2 linked regions of the Homo sapiens genome follow. The protein of the gene in region 2 purifies or fractionates together with the protein of the main gene of each other region. This does not show direct contact. Each region holds a gene or a part of one and is shown on either strand. Other genes may lie near its edges. The genes, in order: COL1A1 and RASGEF1B.

Region 1 (3,500 bases), on a different chromosome or scaffold from region 2:
GTCGGGGGCGCTCAGTTGGCCTGCGTCTTCCTGCTCCCCAGATGAGAGCCGCACTGGAGCCAGTGCATGGGGTGGGCAGAAGGGAGAGTTTGGTACTCACGCTGTTACCCTTGGGACCAGGAGGGCCGCCGGGGCCCTGGGGTCCAGAGGGGCCTCGGGCACCAGGGAAGCCAGGAGCACCAGCAATACCAGGAGCACCCTGTGGGAGGCAGACAGCCAGGGCGTGAGCCTAGGAGCAGAGGGAAAGGGGCAGGCAGGCTGCAGGCGGCAGGAGTGGGACTGAAGCCTGGCAGGATACTTACATTGGCACCTTTAGCACCAGGCTGTCCATCAGCACCAGGGTTTCCCTGTGGCACAGAGAAAGGAGTGTCAGCAACAGGCAAGGACTCTGAGGTTAGAAAGTGGCAAAGGGGACACTGAGTCGGGGACACTTACAGCAGGGCCAGCAGCACCAGCAGGGCCAGGGGGGCCAGGCTCACCACGCACACCCTGGGGACCTTCAGAGCCTCGGGGCCCTTGGGGACCAGCTTCACCCTGAATCAGAAGAAAGGACATATCAGAAGCCACCCTGGGAAACCCAACCTTGCCTCTCGGGATGGCAGGAGGAAGGGGAGACAGGGACAGGAGAGCAATGATCAGGACTCTAAGATCAGAGACGGAGAACCCAGGACAAAGGTGTTAGTGAACGGGCTGCTCTCTTGCCACTCTGGGTCCCTTTGGTTTGGGGAACAGGGAGACATGAACCCCTTGGCCCATGAGGGTCATGCTTAGAGGAGAGTGGGGGGTCTCACCTTAGCACCAACAGCACCAGGGAAGCCAGGAGGACCAGCGGGGCCGGTGGGACCCTGTGAATGAAATGGAGATGTCAGCGAGAAGGAAGAGATGGCAGCTGCAAGTCACACCCTGGGACAGAGGAAGTCCTGGGGTTCAGACCAACATAACCTGCTCCCATTGTCAGCCCCAAGAGCAGATACTGAGACCCCTCCCCACTCCCAGGCCCTGAGGCCTACAGGCCACACTCACAGGGGGCCCGGCAGCACCAGTAGCACCATCATTTCCACGAGCACCCTGCAGGAGAGAGGGGAAGCCCCGTTAAGTCCACTGAGCACTGGCCAGTCCCTAGAGTTCCTGGGGAGCCCCTTCCAGAGCTCAGGGATCCCCCAAGGGGCCAGGAGTACTTACAGCAGGGCCAGGGGCTCCAGGGCGACCTCTCTCACCAGGCAGGCCACGGGGGCCCTGACAACCAAACCAAGAGAAGTCAGATGAGATGGGAGACAGCCTTGTTCCCCCAGGCCTCCATCTTGCCCCTGCCTCCTGCCCCATCCCTGCCCTCTGGAACTGGGCACACTCACCATCTGACCAGGAGCTCCATTTTCACCAGGGCTGCCAGGCTCACCCTGTAGATCAGAGAATAATGAGTGAGAAATTCATTCATGGTGGGACTCTGGGGATGTGGAGGACCATGATGTTCAGACAGCCTCTTACCTTAGGACCAGCAGGACCAGCATCTCCCTTGGCACCATCCAAACCACTGAAACCCTAAAGCAGGAAAGAGGTAGAAGGTAAGAACCTGTGGAGGGGGTGGAACAGCCTTGACATCCACCTAGATCTGAGAAAGAGCCTTGGGAGGTCATCACCGCCATCCCTTTGTTTCTGAGCTAGACTAAACCCCAACTGGCTCTAGATCTCACCCAATCGTTTAATCGGGACTGCTTTCCCATGGAGGGAGGTGCTTTTGGATGTCCACTCTCTGTCCCTTGGGACTTCTGTAGCTGCCACCCACCATGATGCAACTCAGTATCTTTTGGGGAAGAGGTTGGGACTGGATGGGGGTATGCTAGGGACTTGGGGAGCTTAAATGACTCAAAGGTGACTCACTCTGTGTCCCTTCATTCCAGGGAGGCCAGCTGTTCCGGGCAATCCTCGAGCACCCTGGAGAGAGATGAAGAAGACAAGGAAGGGCCATTAGAACACATCACTGTGGACCCAGCTCCTAAATGAAGCCCAAGTGCAGTGAAGCCCAGGTTCAGCCACAGCCCCCTGCTCACCTGAGGCCCAGGAGGCCCACGCTCACCAGGACGACCAGGTTTTCCAGCTTCCCCCTGAGAGGGAGAGAAAAGACCATCATGCCTCTGCCTCCCCACCACCGCCTAGGGGCTGGAAAAGTGGAGAAGGTCTCAGTCTTCTTTGGATTGTTGCAGGTCAGGTTTGGGGGCCCAGAATCTTATCTTTGAATCTAGAGCTCAGTTTAAATCTACAGTGAAACCTTCGTTTGGTGAAATCTGAGTGCCTCTAAAGGAATTTCTGTCTACTTCTGTCACCAGCATTTTAATTTCACCATCTGCGCACCAATTTCCCCAAAGGGATGGGGTTGGGGATTGCTCTAAGGTGGCTGGGGTGAGGAGAACAGTCACTTTGTTGGGGACATGGAATCATCTCACTAAGCGAAAAGATCATTGTTCCAGGGCAGTCCGTGCATCAGAGAGGACTTGCCCTCCTTCCTCTGAGTATCGTTCCCAAATGTGGTGGAGTGGAAATTGCAGGACCCAACCCATGGAGGCCATGGGGTCAGATGGTATCTTCTTGCTGGGGATACTTACATCATCTCCATTCTTTCCAGGGGGACCTGGGGGACCTCGGGGACCCATGGGACCCTAGAAAAGATAGAAGAGGTGGTTAGAATATGGATAAGAAAAAAAGAAGGGGAAGGCTGGGATTGAAGGGAAGAGGTAAGGAAGACCCCAGGCCTGGGAGTTCTTCTATAGGAGAGTCTGTGTGTTTGTAGAAGGAGTATGAATCTGTATAGAGAGTGCTTACTGAAGCTCCAGGCTCGCCAGGCTCACCAGGGGGACCTTGGAAGCCTTGGGGACCCTTGAGAAGAAGGAAAAAGATGGGTTAGAAGACAAGTCCCTGTCAACCTTCTCCAATCTTACCAAGAGATCTCTGAGCATCTCTCCTGCCCTCATCCCAGTCTTCCCTCCAAAAGACCAAAGCCCAAGGAGGCATATGAAGACGTCCTGGATACTCACAGGTGCACCAGGGGGGCCAGGGAGACCACGAGGACCAGAGGGACCCTATAGAGGGAGAAGAAAGGGGGGTCATGGTGATCCCTCTGTAGGAAAGCATGTGGATGTAGTCATTCATGCCTGTTGGGACCACCCAGTCGTCCTGCATCCTTTCTGGACTCTGAGGTCCCAAAGGTGATCTGGACCTCCCAAGCTGTCTATACCAGCCGCCTATGCCCACCTCCTCTGGATACCCATTCTCTCTTCTGTCATCCATGCTCCCCCTGCTGGCTCACCATGGGGCCAGGCACGGAAATTCCTCCGGTTGATTTCTCATCATAGCCATAAGACAGCTGGGGAGCAAAGTTCTAGAACAAACAAGAGAAGTCAGAGTGAGGACAGTGAATTGAAAGGCAGAAGACGGCACTGAGGATGGAAGAAACTGACATCATGCACTTCCTGGTGTGATGTGCTGAGAAGAATAACATTGCTTTT
Region 2 (4,016 bases):
AACAAGGTGAACGATTTCACAATTAGATCAACCATTGAGTTAACAGCAAGGTGTTTTTCATCTGTTTTGTTTACTGCTATAGTGGGGACAGGTAACTTCTCCAATTTATTCTTTGTTGACATCTTTAGTTACCAACAGACTCCCAAAAGTAATGAAAAGTCGATTAAAAAGAAAATTGTAATTATGCCATGGGTTTTCCCAAGATCCTTAAAGTCAGCTCATTTAAATTTACAAGAGAAAAATAACAGGCATCATGGAAAACTAAGTAACAAAAAGCTATTGAAAAATACATCTGTGGAACACAGTGGTCAGTTGTAAACAGCTCAGAAGAGCAAAAAAAAAAAAAAAAAAAAAAAAAAAAAGTCCTTCTAGCATGTTAAGCAGTCCAATGACAAACTCTGCTTTTTATTTTCTTTCTAGTGGCTATTTTCCTACCACAGTGTTGAGCTTCATTATTATATTAAATAACTTATATGGGTAAAAAGGAGTTTGCTAACCAGCAGCCAACTCAAAACCTTGTAGGAGGAGGGAGGAGAAAAATTTACAACACAGCACATACTAAGGGGAAACAAAGTCTGCAGTCAGCTTCCAACCAGTCTTACCCCTCTCTGGCAATACTGATTGAGCTAAGGTTTGGGATCTAAACGGGGGGGTTTTAGATCCCCTCCCTCCACTCCTTTCTTCATTTAAGTTAACAAAAGAAACGTGGGCTTCCTCAGAGCCAGCACTCAGCTGGGCAAGTCCCATTAGCAGCAAATGTTCAACCAAATTAAAAAAAACACACACACACAAAAGAAAACTCCATCCAGGTGCAGAGCTGTGATTCACATGGAAATTCCAGGAGATGAATAATGTGCAGAGCCGGGATTTTTAGAGGATTCTTTCTCAAGTGTCTTCAGTGAACATTTCAGTCTCACAAAATCTGAGTCTATCTGTCAGCTGCAGGAAATAAGTTCTCCATCTGGTCTTGAGTGAGCTTGTGTGCTTTGCTGACCCGGGTGCTCCAATGACTGCAGGGTCTTCATGAGTGTTCGTGGTACGAGATGCCAGAAAACAAAGGCCAGCCCCTCCATGATCTGCAGGAAGCAGCAGCAGCAGCAGGCAGGCAGCTCCCATGTGTTAAACTCTGCCTAAGAGGCTCGACCTGAGTAATAAAAACAACACAACCTAAGACAGAATGTAACAGACTACTTGAACTAGGATGAAAATGCCTTGTGTAATACTAATTTTATCTTTCCTGTGTTTTAAGTTTGATTTTACAAAGTTAAACCAGGAAAAAAAAAATCAAGCTTTTAAGTCCTATTGGCTCTCTGGGAAAACTGCCAGTCACTTAAAAAACAAACATTTATTAATGGAGATGGCAAAAGCTTAAACAGATAAATCTATATCTTGCGTAGGTTTATATTATAACAAAAACAAAAAAAGCAAAGATCATTAATGATAAAGAGCTTTTAGGTACAGGTTATCACAGATAGATTTACTTGGTAGATATAAGCATCTTCACAACACATTCCATGAACACTGGGAGAGTTTAAACAATAGTTGACAATAAGGGTGTCTGCCGTCAGAGGTGTATCTGCCACTGATGAATCTACGTGTCTGCAATGAATGGCTCTAGGGCCACCAAGAAAAGCATCTATGTAAAAATATCTTACTGCCTTCAAAGCTAATGTATAAAAGTTTTCAGGTAGGTACAATGATTCCAGAATATAGTCAGCCCTCTCTATCTGTGGGTTTTGCACCTGTGGATTCAATCAACTGCAGATCAAAAATATTTGAAACAAAAAATATGGGTCTGTACTGAATATATACAGACTCTTTTTCTTGCCATTGTTCCCTAAGTAATATGGTATAACAACTATGTATATAGCATTTACATTATATTAGATATTGAAATTAATCTAGAGATGATTTATGGTACAACAACTATTTACATAGCATTTACATTATATTAGGTATTATAAGTAATCTAGAGATGACTTAAAGTATAAGAGAGGATGCATATGGCTATATTCAAGTATTATCTATTTATTATTTTGAGTTTACCCTAACAGGTTATGTGTTATTGAATCAGTAAGACTGATGGCCACAAGAAAAGAATATTTCTGAAAACAACAGCAACAGAAAGTTTCATTTTATTATACCAGGGACTAGAGCATCCTCAGATTTTGGTATCTGCAGGAGGTCCTGGAACCAATCCCCCATAAATACCAAGGGATGATTATGCTTAATCTTAGTATCCACTTAACGTATGTATTTTGTAAATTATAATAGCCTGTTTTATTTTGTTTTAACTTCTTCGTGGTTGCTATGCCTTGGCCAACACCTGCGATAACCCAGTACCATTCAATGACACTACAGGAGCATGGGCTGACGAGTAATAGAGAGCAAGACACTGTGTCCAGAGCTGGGGCAGACATTAGGGGAAGACCCTGTGCTTGCCCTCAAGGGGCTTACATAGCAATAGAGAAAACCACAAACACTACACAAAACCACATGGCTGGTAACGAGAGAGGAAGAGTGCCTCCTGAGTGTATGAGTTCTGGAGAAATTCTTTCTAGGGAAAAACGGGCCAGGGACGGGGGAGGCATTGGAGCTGGGCCATGAGAACAGACAGGATATGGAAAAGGCAGAGTGTGTGGCTTGAACACCAACACAGATGAGAGCTGTTCTTCAAAGCTCCTTAAAAAACAATTTTAACGTGGAAACTGTCTTTTATACCAAAGAATATAATTTTCATTTCAACCAATTGATACGGGAGTGCTGGGAGGGGAAGAGCACGGTCCCTTTAAATGATACGGAATGGGGAAGGGAAGTGCTGGGTAGAGAAAGGCAGGTCCCTGGCTAGGGCTCAACCCCCACGGACCTAGGTGAGGACAGACATTTCCTGCCCAAATGTTGCATTTCCCAAGACCACCCTGGCCCACCACGCCCCCATCTTGGGCCTATAAAAACCCGAGACCGCCGGCAGACAGACACACAAGTAGCTGGACGTGGTGAGGAACACATCTGCTGAAGAAGACGCAAGTGGCGAGTCGTCGAGAGGACATTGAGGGGAGCACACTGGTAGAAGGGCACGCCGGCAGGGCACACCGAAAGATGCCAGCACGCAGGACAGACTGGCGGGATGAGGCGGAGTTTGGCAGGGGCAGTCTGAGGAGCGGCTGGTCGTCGAGAGGACACTGAGGGGAGCACGCTGGCAGATGGGCACACCGACATACGCCAGCACACTGGCAGGCCACTTACTGGCGGGACGAGGCGAAGTTTGGCAGGCGCAGTCGGAGGAGAGCCTGGGCCACTGAGTGGCCCCACTCCAGTGTAAAAACATCTCCCTTTGGGCTCCCCCATAGGCGGAGAGCTACTTCCACTCAATAAAACTTTGCACTCTCACGCCTGTAATCCCAGCACTTTGAGAGGCTGAGGCGGGCGGATCACGAGGTCAGGAGATCGAGACTATCCTGGCTAACATGGTGAAACCCCGTCTGTACTAAAGATACAAAAAATTAGCCGGGCGTGGTGGCGGGCGCCTGTAGTCCCAGCTGCTTGGGAGGCTGAAGCAGGAGAATGGCGTGAACCCGGGAGGCGGAGCCTGCAGTGAGCCGAGATCCTCCCACTGCACTCCAGCCTGGGCGACAGAGAGAGACTTCGTCTCAAACAAACAAACAAACAAAAAGCTTTGCACTCATTTTCCAAGCCTATGTGCGACCCGATTCTTCCAGTACACCGAGGCAAGAATGCTGAGATACAGAAAGCCCTCTGTCCTTGCCATAAGGTAGAGGGTCTAATTGAGCCGGTTAACGCAAGCCACCTATAGATGGCAAAATAAGGGAGCGCCTTGTAATACAGGCCCACTGGGGCTTCAAGAGCTATAAACATTCACCCCTAGACACTGCCGTGGGGTCGGAGCCCCACAGCCTGCCCACTGGTATGCTCCTCTAGAGGTTTGAGCAGCAGGGCACTGAAGAAGGGAGCCACACCACACCCCCATCGCATGCCCTGGGAGGGGCACAAGGGAA

What was found.
Region 1: the proteins of RASGEF1B (region 2) and COL1A1 purify together in Homo sapiens (affinity purification with mass spectrometry; 2 studies listed by BioGRID and IntAct, with this or other methods). This does not show direct contact.

The regions. Positions count from the first base shown.
Region 1 is NC_000017.11:50,195,132-50,198,631, forward strand, and holds part of COL1A1 (collagen alpha-1(I) chain preproprotein), read right to left. Parts: intron 3,374-3,500; coding exon 3,302-3,373; intron 3,075-3,301; coding exon 3,030-3,074; intron 2,872-3,029; coding exon 2,818-2,871; intron 2,655-2,817; coding exon 2,601-2,654; intron 2,103-2,600; coding exon 2,049-2,102; intron 1,933-2,048; coding exon 1,879-1,932; intron 1,540-1,878; coding exon 1,486-1,539; intron 1,398-1,485; coding exon 1,353-1,397; intron 1,237-1,352; coding exon 1,183-1,236; intron 1,069-1,182; coding exon 1,024-1,068; intron 846-1,023; coding exon 792-845; intron 535-791; coding exon 436-534; intron 348-435; coding exon 303-347; intron 200-302; coding exon 101-199; intron 1-100. UniProt on the Homo sapiens protein: Type I collagen is a member of group I collagen (fibrillar forming collagen).
Region 2 is NC_000004.12:81,426,649-81,430,664, forward strand, and holds part of RASGEF1B (ras-GEF domain-containing family member 1B), read right to left. Parts: intron 1,145-4,016; coding exon 1,120-1,144; 3' UTR 1-1,119. UniProt on the Homo sapiens protein: Guanine nucleotide exchange factor (GEF) with specificity for RAP2A, it doesn't seems to activate other Ras family proteins (in vitro).